Linked DNA regions of Homo sapiens. The protein of the gene in region 1 interacts with the protein of each later gene in a biochemical or structural test. Each region holds a gene or a part of one and is shown in the gene's direction. Other genes may lie near its edges.

Region 1 (4,253 bases):
GAAGCCCTCTGGGCATTTTTGCCTCCAGGGAACTGCCAGGCTGATGGCATAGAGCTGGGTGAGCTCTCTCCTGACAGCCAAGCCCAGGGACTCCAAGAGCTTGAGATGATCCACCTCCTGTCTCTGGGTCTCTCAAGGCAGCAAGAAGTGAAGGGCAGACAGGCCTCAAAGCAACAGAGTGGTCCAGGGACAGGAGTCCCAGTTCTGCAGCCGTATATACTGAGGACCCTCCTGGCCTAGTCACCTGCTTCCTAGCTCTGTGACCTTGGACAAGTTATTTCTTCTCTCAGAGCATGTTTCCACACCTGTCAAATAAAGAAATTAAAAGTACCAACTTGGAAGAAAAGTACCAATTGGTAAGAATCAAAGTAATAGATAAATTAGACATAAAACGATGGTGCCAATAAGTAACATTTCCTGGGTACTGACAACATGTATGATTTCTATAGTTCTCACAGCCACCCTATCAGAAACACTGTGATGATCTGCACTTTACAGATGATGAAACAAAAGCTGAGAGCGGTAAAGTCACTTGTGCTGGAAAGTAGTGAGGAGGGAATTTCTGCCACTATGGCTGGGCTCACACCACTATACCTCGCATTCTGGCACAATGTCTAGAACATGGGAAGGCCTTCATCCAGATGGTTACCACTGTCATCGCTCTCCACTAGGGCTCTCTACCTGGCTTTGGAGAGTAGTGTGAGAGTGAGGACTCCTCCTGGTTCTCCCCACCACCCAGACACTCACACAGCCACCAGGCCACTGACCCACTTTAAGGAGCTTTCCTTTGGGAGTCACCAAAACTCCTCCCCAATACCCGTCCCCACCCCCGCATACACACACATACCCTCTTTGAGTCAGTTCCAGTGATCACAGTCAATGACTTTGCTGCTGGACAGTCTATGACAAGCCCCTGTCCAGAACTGGCCTTGTGTTCTGGCCCAGCAGGGGCCCTTGGGGGTCAGGCCTGCAGGCACTCACACTTGGCACCTGCTCCAAAACCCTTTCAGGTCTTTGAGGATCTGAGCCCTGGGCCTGGGTCTCCCGCCGGCTCGGAAAAGCTGGCCTGCCGGGCCAGAGAGAGAACCACACGATTCAGAAAAGCAGTGCCCTTCAGCAGCCTCTCCACCGTCTGGGCTCCCCAAAGGCAGAGCGGGACGCTGGAAATGTGTGCGCGCTGTGGTATGGGTGTGCAAGTGTGCGAAGGCGGCGTGTTGTGTGAGCGAGAGGGTAGCGGATGTGTGTGTGCGTGTGCGCGCGTGGCTCCGGGTGTGCGCCGCTGCGATAGCGGGTCCTTTCCCGGGGCGGGCGACGGGCGGGCTGGGAAGGTCTCCTCCCCTCACCACATTGAGAAATCTCAGTGAGTCACCGAGTGGTTCTGCATATTAATGAGCTCGCTCGCTGCGAGGGCAGGAGCGGATTTAAAAGAGGCCAGGGCGGGCGGAGGGAGGCTGTGGAGAGAGCGCGGAGACAAGCGCAGAGCGCAGCGCACGGCCACAGACAGCCCTGGGCATCCACCGACGGCGCAGCCGGAGCCAGCAGAGCCGGAAGGCGCGCCCCGGGCAGAGAAAGCCGAGCAGAGCTGGGTGGCGTCTCCGGGCCGCCGCTCCGACGGGCCAGCGCCCTCCCCATGTCCCTGCTCCCACGCCGCGCCCCTCCGGTCAGCATGAGGCTCCTGGCGGCCGCGCTGCTCCTGCTGCTGCTGGCGCTGTACACCGCGCGTGTGGACGGTGAGTGCGGGGAGCTCCCCTTGTCGCCGTCTCGTCTTGTCCTGTCCTGGGGAACCCAAGCGCCAATTTCTAGGCATCCTGGGATCCCGCGGGGGGTGGTCTGGGTGGGCACCAAGGTGGTCGAGGGGCAGGAGACCGCCTAGCAACTAAGCCGTTGCCCCGCGCTCGCTCGCAGGGTCCAAATGCAAGTGCTCCCGGAAGGGACCCAAGATCCGCTACAGCGACGTGAAGAAGCTGGAAATGAAGCCAAAGTACCCGCACTGCGAGGAGAAGATGGTTATGTGAGTTCTCGCTCCTCACCTTGAGGGGGTGCGCACTGCTGTCAACCCAATGCCAGGGCACAGCCTGGGCCTGGGTCGGGCTAACAAACATTTCTCTCCGACTTTGTCAAGGCCCTGGAAAAGCCTTTGTAATTGCCCAGAGAGTCCTTAGGACGCTGGCGAGACACTCTGGAAGACAGTCGGGAAGGGGGGTCACTGTCCCGCTCCGGAACAGCGCCTCCAAGTTCACCCTTGCTAGGATTCAAATGAGCAGTCTCCCTATTTGTACCATGGGCCACCCACTCTGCTAGGGCCATCAAGGGTTAAAGGGTTCCCTTGTGCCAACTCAGAAAACCTAGACTGAAATCACTTAAAACACACTCACACCCAAACTGTGAGGCGTGCTGCCTTCCTGTCACTGGATAGAGGACTAATGCAAACACTATCTTAAATCCTGAGTCTCCTTCAGAGCCTTGTTCCAGTCAGAGACAAGTGGACCGCAAGTTTTTGGCTCCTAGAGATTTTATTTTGAGAACGCTCCACGAGCTTCCCTCACCGACTGTACTCCTTGTGGGTCCCCAATACGGAGCAGTACTGCAGAAAGTGCTCTGCTGGGGTTAATGTGCCACATGGCTGGAGCCCTGCTTGGTGGGGATGTGGGGAATGTTGGAAAAACTGGGGCAGAGTGAGAGAACACTTAGTTTCTTGCTCCTCCGCCTTCCCAATTAACCACTTGAGGCCAGCACCGCTGCCTCCTCATCAATATGCTCTTGGCCAGGAAGGGAGCCCTTGGCAAAGCGGCTACCAAATATTTGCCACAGACCATTGGCCCCTCTTCCCCTCCCCCAGAAACAGGACGCACTTTATTCTCAGTCTGGGCAAGTGCCCTCCACCAGCTGGCCCCCACCGGCGCAAAGGCCTTCACAGTGTCTGCGAAAGCAGTGCACACCCCTACCCAGCACCCCCCATCCCCGTCTAGGGGCTACACTGTCAGGCTGAAATTAGGGGAATTCAGAAATCCACTGGAACTGAGCTGACCCCACTGCCTTCCTTCACAGACACCTAAATTAACTTGCTTGTCCCTACCCCTTGCCTTGCAGACCAAATTCAAAGAAAATACCCAAAAATCCTTTTGGGTGGGGGCCAAGTGTCAAATGAGCTGGGAAAGGAGCTCCAAGCTCCTCAGGGCTTCCAGTTTGGGGGCTAAGAATGACAGGGGAATTCCAAGTTAAATCTCACTCGTCTAAGAGCTGAAAACCACTCTATTAACCAAACAAGTTTCTGAGACCTTGCAGGGGAAGAAAGCAGGGTAAAGGATGCAGTGATACCTAAAAAGGACAGAGCCCTCAGTAAATAGGCTTGCTCTTTTCCTGGCTAAACTTTTCCACATATAGAGAAAAACTATAGCTAGGCAAGTGTGAGAAAGGCTTTACGGAGCCTTGTAGAAACGTGCAGGGGCCTCAGGAGATCAGCACACAATCCAATCACCCTCTACTAAACCTCTAACCCACCCCCTAGGGCCTCCCACTCCATCCCTGAGGGCTGGGGGCTCCTCTCCCCCTCCACAATCCTAAAACTCTCCAAATCAGATGAGGGGCCAGCACTTTTGCAAAGCAGGTTTTCAGCCACAAAGGCTGAACAAAAGCAAATTTTCCAGCTTACCCTGAGTCACCCAGAAATCTCTGCTGAGGCTGGGGGTGGGGGCAGGAGTAGGGGCGGGGGGAGAGGTCCGCTTTGCAAGTGGGAGTCCTTGCACCCAGAAGGATCCAGGAGAGTCCGAATTCTAGAAAGAGCAATTTGTGTCATAGGTCCATGGAGCTCTCACCAAAACCCTTACCCCCACCGCCAGAACTGTGGAGGAGAGGGTCACAGGACTCAGAATTTCTGATAGTTGCTGGAGTCACAAATCCCTATGTCTGCACTCCACAACCGATTTTCATAATCCCAGTATTATGACGTGGCATTTGAGCACTGTAGTGAGAGGGCTGAGTGACCCTTCCTGCTCTCCCTTCCTGCTCTCCCTGACCTTCAGGATTTGGGATGCACAGCCTGCACACTGACCTAACTGAGAAAGGGTTTTTATCAGGCATTACCACGTCCTTTCCTTCAGAATGCTAAAGCAGCCTTGTAGGCAGAAAGAGAAAAGCATTTGCTAAATTCCTGCAGGGTGACTGGGCACAGTGGGGGAGAGAGACAACCAGAGTTCACTCTGAAGCCTGGCCTGTGCTCAAGGCTAGAGGAATGACCCGGAGTCACAGAGGAG
Region 2 (3,939 bases), about 92 Mb from region 1:
ACATTGTCCATTAGGCCCTATCTCCCAGCACTATTAGGGATTAATTTTCAACATGAGCTTTGGAGAAGAAAAAAATATTCAAACCACAGCAGTAATTTGAAAACATAAAAAGAAATGGGTGAAATTAATTTTAATAATATATTTTATTTAACCCAAAAAGTCCAAAATACTATCATGTAATCAATAAACAGTATAAACATTATTAACAAGATATTTTATATTTTTTTCTGTACCCAGTCTTTGAAATCCAGTGTGAATTTTATACCCATAGTACATCTGAGTTTGGACTACTCATATTTCAAGTGCTCAAGAGCCACATGTGGGCTAGCGGCTACCACATAGGACAACACAGTTCTAGAGGAAGCATGGCATGACTTTGGAGGTCATCTAGTCTGACTTGTTATTTACAGCAAAGTTAAGTACGTTGCCTGAGGTTATACAACTTATTAGTAGATGAGGAACAATTAGAATCCAATTATCTTCATGCTACCCCATGCTTTTATTCACAAAGCTGATTGGCAGCAAAGCTGCACTAGCGCTCATGCCTCTTCACACCTGCTCTTGGGCTCTTTTCTACAAGGCATTGCCCCCCTTCCTGTCTTTCTCCTAAATAAGCTATTGTAAAAAGCTTCACTGGAAACAATTTGGCTGTGAACCAAGACTAAAGTGGGGTTTAATACTTCCATATCTTTCCACAAAGATACATTTTTTATGACTTGTCACCCTTGTCCCCAGAAACTCATGGTTTCCATAAGCTACTTAAAAACTGATTATGCAATGGGTCTCAACATAAGTGTCCATCAGAATCACCTATAGAGCTTTTACAAAATTCAAATGACTGGTCTCCTACCTGGGAGTTCTGGTTTACAAATCAGGGAAAGGGGAGAGTCATTTAGATTGATTTTTTTTAATGTTCCCCAAATGATTCTGATGCACACCCCACCTCACAGTGACCCTGCCAGCTGCCAGATCTCCATTGACATCCCCTGACCCCCAGGCAGGATGAACACAAGTTAGGAGCTTAATAAGTCGAGGAGGAGCCTGGTCTTAAGGAAAGAAACATGAGAAATAGATACCCTGAACACCTCCCAGGGCGGGGCCACCTGGCTTACTTTTCCTCTGCACTTTCTCTGTGCCCAAGGACACCTTTAGCCTCATTTCCTGATCGAACAGCCTCACTTGTGTTGCTGTCAGTGCCAGTAGGGCAGGCAGGAATGCAGCAGAGAGGACTCGCCATCGTGGCCTTGGCTGTCTGTGCGGCCCTACATGCCTCAGAAGGTGAGTGGGGGCACTGGACACTTAGGCCTTCACTGGAAAGGGGGGTATCTCCCAAATCTGTGCTGGAAGGATTGAGGTGGGGCAAGAATATCTATCTCTTCAAGCAGGAATTTCCAATTGATTTCTGATTACCTACAAGAGAATGACATAGCTTTAAATTCTAGATCTCCCAGAAGTTTCAGGAAGGAACCTCATTCTAACAGGCATACTACAAATTTTTGCCACCTGGAGGATGAGGTCCTTCCATGTAGGTACAACTTCGAGCTATGTTTCCTTTTCTGAAGACAGTATCTTAGAAAATCCCCAGCTAGAGGCTGGAGTAAAGCCCCTACTATTCATCTGTCTTCCTCCACACCCCAACCTGCTAAACGGTCTGAACACAACTGTGCACATTCCTGGAGGGAAATACAGACTTGGCCAGCTGCGTTCAAATTAGGTAAGTTGTAAATTTCCTGAGCAAAGTCAGCTCTATGGATACAGAAAACTGAAACTTCAGTCTGACCTTTAAAAAGGGAGGGCAGAGCTGAGCACAGTGGTGCATGCCTGTATTCCCACCTACTTGGGAGGCTACGGCTGGAGGATAGCTTCAGGCCAGGAATTCAAGATTGCAGTGAGCTATGATCACACTGTGAATTGCCACTGCACTCTGAATTGCCACTGCACTCCAGCTTGGGCAACATAGTAAAACCCCATCTGTTAAAAACAAAAAGAGGGGAGGGGAGGGGAAAGAGAAGGAAAGGAAGAAAGGAAAGGAAAGAAAGAAAAAGAAGAAAAGCAGGATGAGGGAGATTGAACCATACAAATTATGTCAAAGAGAATTTAAATCGTGAGTTGCTAGCATGTATTTGGAGATTGTAACTGCATTTGAACTAGAGGGAATCTCTTCTAAAGTAGCACTCACTACTATATTCAGGAAACCCTAAGTGTCAGTACTTAATACTTGACCAATGACTCTTTTCCATTGTCATCTTTTCTTTAAGCTTTATCCTGAACAGATTCTCTAAGTCTAGAGCAGAGGTGGAATATAAGTCTTTGGTCTGCTTTTTAAAAATCTGAGCCAACATTTTAAAACTGAAAGCTTTCTCATGTACATACTCATACATACACACATACAAATTGGATTTTAAAGCTTCTCTTGAGAAATCAGATGTGGCAACAATGATTCCACCATACCATGGCAAGAACTGGCTAAAGCAGATGAGCCTCTGAAGTTTGCTGTATTAACTGCCTGGTCCCTGCAGGCATTTGCTTAGGGACTCCCAATATAGTCCGTCAATGTACTGGGCTTATACAAATAAGCAACAGAAAAAACCTGGACAATCTCTTCTCAATTTCTACTAATCTATCTATCTTATCAATATAAAGACAAAAATTTGTCACTTTATGTTTCTGTAACATTTCTCAGAAAAATTCACCATTGAGATTTGGGGACTCATTTTCACTATTTCTGAAAGGCCTACCTGCTAAGGCTTCACTCCTAGTTCTGGTAATTCCACCAACTCAAATTTTTTACATAAAACTTTGAAATGTGTACCTCCATCCAGCTTCCTGACCTACTCCCACCTGTCCCCACAGCGGCAGCTCTCCTACAGGAAAGGAGGGAGGGAACAGCAGGTCGAGGAGGCAGAGGGTAATGAGGAAGGCTCTGCCATACCCAGGACCCACCTTCACATGGGACTGAGTCCTGGTAGAGACGGTGGGGTGGAACGGCAAAATGCAGAGGTGTGTGAAAAGGTACGGCTGCTGGTGATAATAAGGAAGGGAGCCGAGAGACCCAGCAATAGCCTTTTGGGTTAGTCTCGATGCTTTACCTAAGGCAGTTTAGGCCACAGGAAAATCACATTGCCTGAGAAGCTCCAAACTTCTGTCATTTAAAAATAAGTGATACTGGGTAAAAATACACAAGTAGGCCTGAGAACAGTCGTGGAATAGAGGGGCAACGCCACAGCTATTCTTAACAAACTTCCACTCAAGTGTCCATGTAAGCCAGGTGCCCTGTGGGAGGCACTTAAGTGATTCTGGCTCCAGGGAGGGGGTGGAAAACCAAGTGGGGAGGGAGGAAGGTAGAGAACACTCAACAACTCAACAGTGCAGAGAAGAGGACAGGTGGCCTTGGCAAGGGGAATAGGAAAAAGGCCTGTGCCAGTTTGGAACTTTGGGAAATATATTTTGTTTCCTTGAGGCAGAAAGCTGTTCCCTTATCTTAATGGTGTCTTAAATGGCTATCTTGTTGTGATGGCTCAATAACTGGCATTCCCTAAGTGTTTTGCATAAATCAGGAAGCAGGTGACTTTATCTATAATTAAAAGCCTTGGATTCTGCCCAAAGGTAGGGCACACTCCACCTCTGCTGACGTGGCTGCTGGCTCCCAGAACTCAATACTGAATCCATAAACATGTCTATCATCCTGTTTCGGTGGCCCTGAGCCTGATTATTTAAACCCACAATCTAGGACTTTGTGGGCCTGGCTGTTTTATTGTACATTAAGATTAAGGCTCACTTGTGCCCAGCAGATTCAAGTTAGGAGGTTTTGCTGCAGTGAGTCCCAAATTGCCTTCCCACTGACAACCTTCTTTCTCAGAGTACAATGGCTACTGAATCACACCAATACTTGCTAGAGATTTGCTGCTTGCATCCTAAAACGTTTACCTTTTGTTTTAA
Region 3 (3,500 bases), about 59 Mb from region 1:
TGGCAGCTTCTTCTGAACCCCAGTCAGTCAAGAATTCTACCTTTAGGTTGGGCACGGTGGCTCATGCCTGTAATCCCAGCACTTTGGGAGGCTGAGGCGCAGATCACTTAAGGTCAGGAGTTGGAGACCAGCTTGGCCAACATGGTGAAACCCTGTCTCTACTAAAAATACAAAAATTAGCCGGGCATGGTGGTGCACAACTGTCATCCCAGCTACTCAGGAGGCTGAGGCAGGAGAATCTCTTGAACCCAGGAGGCAGAGGTTGCAGCAAGCCAAGATCGTGCCACTGCACTCCAGCCTGGGAGACAGAGTGAGACTCTGTATCAAAAAAAAAAAAAAGAATTTTGTCTTTAATTCTGCTTTTTCTGTAGCAGAGATTTTTGTTCACTTACTGCTCTTGCATCTGCTCCATCTAGAACAGTGTTTTAAAGATGTATTTTTCTGTTTTGTCCTTGAATATCTCCCTGCTATCTCTCTCCTGTGTGTAAGGACCAAGTTGTTGGCATGTGTGGTTGGTGTGCAGCCAAAGTCAGTAGGACTCCAGAATTCCCAAGCTTTGGGCATCATCACGTTAAGCTAGCCATTCACATGTCCACATACTGCCTACTGTAGCTAAAAGGATGGGCAGATTCATTTGTTTGGTGACATGCAAAGAGAAAAAGATGGTACTCTTTTAGAAGTAGGTCATGAATCACAAGTTTTTAAGGAGAGAATAGCGTGGAGTGGTCAAAAGGTATGACCTTTGGAGCTGGGCAGACCTAGGTTCAAACCCTGGCTCCTCTACTTCATAGCTGTGTGACTTTGGATTAGTTACTTAGCCTCTCTGTGCCTCCATGTTGTCATTTATAAAATGGTAGTTATAATGCTCATGTCATAGAAATGTTAGAATTATATGAACTAAGGCAAGTGAAGTATCTGGCACATAGTAGGTGCTCAAAAAGATGGTAAGGTTTTTTCATACACCAATGCTTCCATATTCCAGAAAAGCTTTTGAAGAGTTGATACCAAATAAATTATCTAAATATAAGACAATCTTCACACAAGCATGCAAGAACATTTTCCCCTTCAGAACTAGGACAAAAGAAAAAAGCAAAAACCCTTGCCCTTAACTTCTAGTGGCAAATAAACATGCATACAGTATTTGTTTGTTTTTTTAACTTTTATTATGGGATTTTTCAAACATACCCAAAAATGAACAGTATAGTTACTCCCCATACCCATCATCCAGCTTCAACATTATTTACATGTCACCAATCTTGTTTTATCTAAACCCTCAAGTTTCCTCCTCTCCCAACTGTATAATTTTAAAGCAAATCCCAGATATCATATTATGTCATTCATAAAAACATCAGTAAGCATCCTTAGAGATTAGAACTCTTTTTTCCACATAACCACAATACAATTATAATACCTAAAAAATGAACATTTCCTTCTGTTTTTTTGTTTGTTTGTTTGTTTTGAGACACATTCTTACTCTGTTGCTAAGGCTGGAGTTCAGTAGCACAATCATGGCTCATCCACAGTCTCAACCTCCTGGGCTCAAGCAATCCTCCTGCCTCAGACTCCAAAGTAGCTGGGACTACAGGCACACACCACCACGACCAGCTAATTTTTGTATTTATTTTAATAGACATAGGATTTTGCTGCATTGCCCAGGCTGGTCTGGAACTCCTGGGTTCAATCAGTCCTCCTGCCTCGGCTTCCCGAAGTGCTGGCATTACAGGCGTGAGCCACCGTGCCCGGCCTAACAATTCCTTAATATCATCTGATAATCAGTCAGTGTTCATATTTACCTTATTGTCTCATAAATACCTTTTAACAGTTGGTTTGTTTGAATCAGGTTCAAACAAGGTCCACCATTACATTTTAATCTGTAACTGCCCCCCCACCCCTTTTTTATTGCTATTTATTTGTCAAAGAAACTAAGCCATCTGTCTTAGTTCTTATTTGTCAAAGAAACTAAGCCATCTGTCTTTTCTACATACTGGATCTGGCTGACTGCGTCTTCAACTCATGGATCTTAACATGTATGAAATGTTTCAATTCATTTCCATCATTATTCTTTTGATGGTCAAATTGGTGATCAACATGTCACATCTTTGGTCAGTGGGAGCCCTTTGAGATTGACTCCAGCGTCTTTTTGACCTAACCCTGATATTCTTTGAAGATGTTCAATGTTCATCTTGTGTATTTCCTACCCCAGATCTGGAACTAGTCATTTCTTTAAGAAGCCCCAGTTCTTTTCATTGGAAAATGGTGTTTGTTTGAATCTGAGGGAGTAAAACATTCCAGTAATGCTGGTGTTTTCCACTTGACAGAGTTAGTGTGATTCTGTTATTTTCCTGTCCTCCTCTTCATTTCTCTTTAGCCTGTAGTGTTGTTTCAACTCTTGTGCTCTGTGTGGGAATGTGAGCAAAGTCCTGGGACTTCTGCTTTGTTAACTCTGAAAAAGCATGAGCCCCGAAGGGCAGAACTGTGAGTCAAAACCATGTGTGTCATGGAATGCTGGTGTGGTATAAATCCCAGGATCAAATGCGACATTCAGAGATCCTCTAGTCACCCCTCTGCTTCCAGGACAGATCTCATCACAGTCAGAAAACGTGTTGCCTAACTCACTAATTTTTAAAAATCGCCACAGTTAAAGAGTCCGTATTTAAACTATTTAATAATTTGCTGTATTCGATAACAAAACTACTCTAGAGCAATTTAGAAGAGCCTAAATTAAGTGAAACTTAGCAAATCGTATGAGAACTGAATTCAGGACCTCTGCTGCCTTTTTTGTGAAACCATAGCTTAACCAAAAAAAAAAACAGAGATGAATGATAAGAGATTTGGGCACCTTCACAAGCACTTTCTCCTTGACCTGAGTTGTGCTAGGACTGGAGGAAAAGCGAGATACTTAAACTCAAATTTCAGCCTAAGGGTCTTGAGCTAGTTGGAATTGTCTAGTCACCTTGCATTGGTTTTGTCCTTTCTTTGATGCTGGTATATACTACATTTTTTCTTTTCTTTTTTTTTCCGACATTCTTTAATTTCACAAAAACCAGAATATCAAACCCATAGTATCAAGAAAAGGTAACACCTTAGGCAGCGATATTTAACCAAGGGATTATACATTCTTCCTGAGCTCTAGCCTATAAAAATTTCATGTTTCCACAAGTATAATGTTCCTGTCGGAAGTACCGTCTGCCTGAGGCCTACCCAGAGAAGATGTTTTTTAAAACAAGTACTTACTGCCTAAGTACTAAATACAGAGTAAAGTCTAGTGACAGTTTTATTTTCAGACTAAGTGATAGTATCTGAAGAGCTTAGTTGTATTTATTAGTTTTCACATTGTGTCAGTCTCTCAGGTGTCATCTTGATTCATGTATGTAAGTATGCATGTTCATGTCCACTTTTTCCCCTCTGTGCATCACAAAAGCCCATAATCTGGCCAGGCTTCCAAAACTGCAGAGGAGAATTGCATTATTTTAAGGTTCCTTGGCCAGGTGCAGTGGCTT
Region 4 (3,500 bases), on another chromosome or scaffold:
ACCCTTACCTTTAACCATATACGAAAATTAACTCAAGATGGATCAAATATTTAAATGTAAAACCTCAAGCTATAAAAATCCTAGAAAAAAATAGGAAATACCCTTCTTGACACTGGCCTTGGCAAAGAATTTTTGGCTAGGTCCCCAAAAGCAATTGCAACAAAAACGAAAATTGACAAGTGGAACCTAAGTAAACTATAGAGCTTCTGCACAGCAAAAGAAACTATCATTACCGTAAACAGACATCTTACAGAATGAGAGAAAATATTTGCAAACTATGTACCCAACATAAGGTCTAATATCCAGAATCTATAAGGAGCTTAAACCAATAAGCAAAAAGACGAATAACCCCATTAAAAAATGGGCAAAGGACATGAACAGGCACTTCTTAAATGAAGATATACAAGCACTCAGCAAACATGAAAAAATGCTCAGCATCAGTAATCATCAGAGAAATCCAAATCAAAACCACAATGAAATACCATCTCACACCAGTCAGAATGGCTATTATTAAAAAGTCAAAAAAAAGAACACAATAGATGCTGGTTTGGTTTTTGATATGGTTTGATTGTGTCCCCACCCAAATCTCATCTTGAACTGTAGAGCTCCCATTATTCCCACATGTCATGGGAGGGACCTGGTAGGAGGTAATTGAATCTGGGGGTAGGTCTTTCCTGTGCTATTCTCATGATAGTGAATAAGTCTCATGAGTTCTGATGGTTTTATAAAGGGGAGTTCCCCTGCACATGTTCTCTTTGCCTGCCACCATGTAAGACGTGACTTTGCTCCTCCTTCACCTTCCACCATGCTTGTGAGTGCCATGGCCTCCCCAGCCATGGGGAACTGTGAGTCAATTAAACATCTTTCCTTTATAAATTACTAGTCTTGAGTATGTCTTTATCAGCAGTGTGAAAATGGACAAATAACACTTTTTTGACTTTTTAATAATAGCCATTCTGTCAGAATGACAGCTGGAAGAGAACAGAAAATTCAGAATACACTAATACACTTTTTTGTATTTTTGTATAGCCATATGCAGAAGATTGAAACTGGACCCTTCATTCTTTCAGAATGTCTATTATTAAAAGTCAAAAAATAAAAAAAAAACAGGTGCTAGGTCCCACTTGGTGAGGTTGCAGAGAAAAGGAAACAGTTATACACTGTTATTGGGAAATATAAATTTTCACTGTGGAAAGCAGTTTGGAGATTTTTCAAAAAACTTAAAACTGAGCTACCATTCAACCCAGCAATCCCATTACTGGGTATATAGCCAAAGGAAAATAGATCATTATACCAAAAAGACACATGCACTTGTATGTTCATACTATGCTATTCATAATAGCAAAGACACAGAATCAACCTAGGTTCCAATCAATGATGGATTGGATAAAGAAAATTTGGTATATATACACCATGGAATACTAACCAGCCATAAAAAAGAATTAAATCATGTCTTTTGCAGTAACACGGGTGGAGCTGGAGGCCATAATCCTAGCACACCAACACAGGAACAGAAAACCAAATACTACATGCTCTCACTTATAAGTGGGAGCTAAACACTGAGCACACATGGACATAAATATGGGATTAATAGACGCTGTGGACTACTAGAGGGGGAAGGAAGGGAACAGGTAATGGGTTGAATAACTACCTATTAGTTATTATGTCCACTATCTGGGTGTGATATACCCATGTAACAAATCTGCACATGTACCCCCATATCTAAAATAAAAGTTGAAATTTTTAAGAAAAAGAAGCAAGAGATCCTGAGAAGGTTGAGGTAATTGTTATAGTTATTCATTCATTGACCCACTAGAACATTTCCACAGACTCTACTATGTGTCAGACATGGTGCTGAGTACTGACATGCAAGGCTAATTAAGGCGTGGTCAGTTAGACAAACAGGTGAACAAAACTACAAAATAGTGTAATAATTGCTAAGAATTTGGGAAAGGATGCTAAGGAAGCATCTTCTTTAAGAATCATTGTGACCATTTCACCGTTTTTGCTTAAACATTGATAGTTCTGAATAAGTTCACAAGAATGTGGCCATCATGTGTTACTTTGAAATTATATTTATTATTTCTATATGTATCCATTTTGTCTCCTCAATAACTAAACTATAATCTTTCTGAGAGAATTAAAAAAAAATCTTCTGGTATCATGAAGACAGCACAAAGTCACTGGAGTCAGAAGACCTGGGTTTGAATCCTGACTCTGCTATTCTTTAGCTGTGCAACCCTGGGAAAATTAGTTAACTTTTCTGTAGCTCAGTTCCTTTATCTATAAATGGAAGTAATAATATCCATCCTGCCTGCCTCACAGACTGTAGTCAGCGTCAATGAAATAATATATAAGAAGAACTGACTATCCTATAAATCCCTGATATTAGTCCCTGTTACCAGCCTTCTAAGTTGCACAAGCCTACTATGTTGGACACACAGTAAGTAATCAGTAAATATCAGGCTTTAATTATGCTTTATTAGCAAAGACTTGCAGTTTTTGGAGTCTATAGTTTCCTGTCCCCCTCAACCTAATGTCCAAGGACTTCAGAGGCTAGGATCACAAAGTATAGTTATGACCTAGGAGTGACCAGCCAGTGTAGGACCCAGCGTGGACTGGGCCGGTTTCATCTAGACTAGCTGCCTACTAACCAAGAGTGGCTGACATTTTGCTGGAGGTGAAGCTCTGGGACTGTGATTATTCATTTAGAAACATCTCCTACCCTTTCCTACTCTGTCATATCTCTGAGTTTTGGTATCAGAGAGCTCTAACAGACTGGCAGCGTTAGGTGAAAGGGTGCAGGACTTGGCAGGGAGATGGTCAGGAACATTTTTAAAACCTTTCCTTCTGTGTTTACAGGGAATGTAGTTTCACAAAGCAGCTTAACCCCATTGATGGTGAACGGGATTCTGGGGGAGTCAGTAACTCTTCCCCTGGAGTTTCCTGCAGGAGAGAAGGTCAACTTCATCACTTGGCTTTTCAATGAAACATCTCTTGCCTTCATAGTACCCCATGAAACCAAAAGTCCAGAAATCCACGTGACTAATCCGAAACAGGGAAAGCGACTGAACTTCACCCAGTCCTACTCCCTGCAACTCAGCAACCTGAAGATGGAAGACACAGGCTCTTACAGAGCCCAGATATCCACAAAGACCTCTGCAAAGCTGTCCAGTTACACTCTGAGGATATTAAGTAAGTCAAAATATGGGGTTTAATTCCATATGGACTGAAAAATATACATGTATTCCAATCCTATGTGACTTCAAATGTGCACTGTCGCCTAGTGGTAAAGAATATGGCATTTGGAGTCATTGAGTCAGTGTCAACACAATGACACTGCAAAGCCAGTTAATGACAGAGCTGAAGACAGAGCCTAAGTCTTGTGTCCCAGCCCAGAATTACTTCACTCCGATAAAATGGTCTTCTTCAACCAGAAATGTAGCAGAAGTAATGGAAGTCAAATATTTATGATAGTGTTGCCTTGTGCACTACATGTA

The links.
Region 2: the proteins of CXCL14 (region 1) and CCL28 form a complex in vitro, tested with the Homo sapiens proteins (one large-scale study listed by BioGRID and IntAct).
Region 3: the proteins of CXCL14 (region 1) and F2R form a complex in vitro, tested with the Homo sapiens proteins (one large-scale study listed by BioGRID).
Region 4: the proteins of CXCL14 (region 1) and SLAMF6 form a complex in vitro, tested with the Homo sapiens proteins (one large-scale study listed by BioGRID).

The regions. Positions count from the first base shown.
Region 1 is NC_000005.10:135,576,192-135,580,444, reverse strand, and holds the start of CXCL14 (C-X-C motif chemokine 14 precursor), read left to right. Parts: upstream 1-1,453; 5' UTR 1,454-1,666; coding exon 1,667-1,730; intron 1,731-1,905; coding exon 1,906-2,011; intron 2,012-4,253. UniProt on the Homo sapiens protein: Potent chemoattractant for neutrophils, and weaker for dendritic cells. Not chemotactic for T-cells, B-cells, monocytes, natural killer cells or granulocytes. Does not inhibit proliferation of myeloid progenitors in colony formation assays.
Region 2 is NC_000005.10:43,409,592-43,413,530, reverse strand, and holds the start of CCL28 (C-C motif chemokine 28 isoform a precursor), read left to right. Parts: upstream 1-1,139; 5' UTR 1,140-1,214; coding exon 1,215-1,278; intron 1,279-3,939. UniProt on the Homo sapiens protein: Chemotactic activity for resting CD4, CD8 T-cells and eosinophils. Binds to CCR3 and CCR10 and induces calcium mobilization in a dose-dependent manner.
Region 3 is NC_000005.10:76,722,626-76,726,125, forward strand, and holds part of F2R (proteinase-activated receptor 1 isoform 1 precursor), read left to right. Parts: intron 1-3,500. UniProt on the Homo sapiens protein: High affinity receptor that binds the activated thrombin, leading to calcium release from intracellular stores.
Region 4 is NC_000001.11:160,495,756-160,499,255, reverse strand, and holds part of SLAMF6 (SLAM family member 6 isoform 1 precursor), read left to right. Parts: exon of another isoform or gene 1-2,680; intron 2,681-2,862; coding exon 2,863-3,195; intron 3,196-3,500. UniProt on the Homo sapiens protein: Self-ligand receptor of the signaling lymphocytic activation molecule (SLAM) family.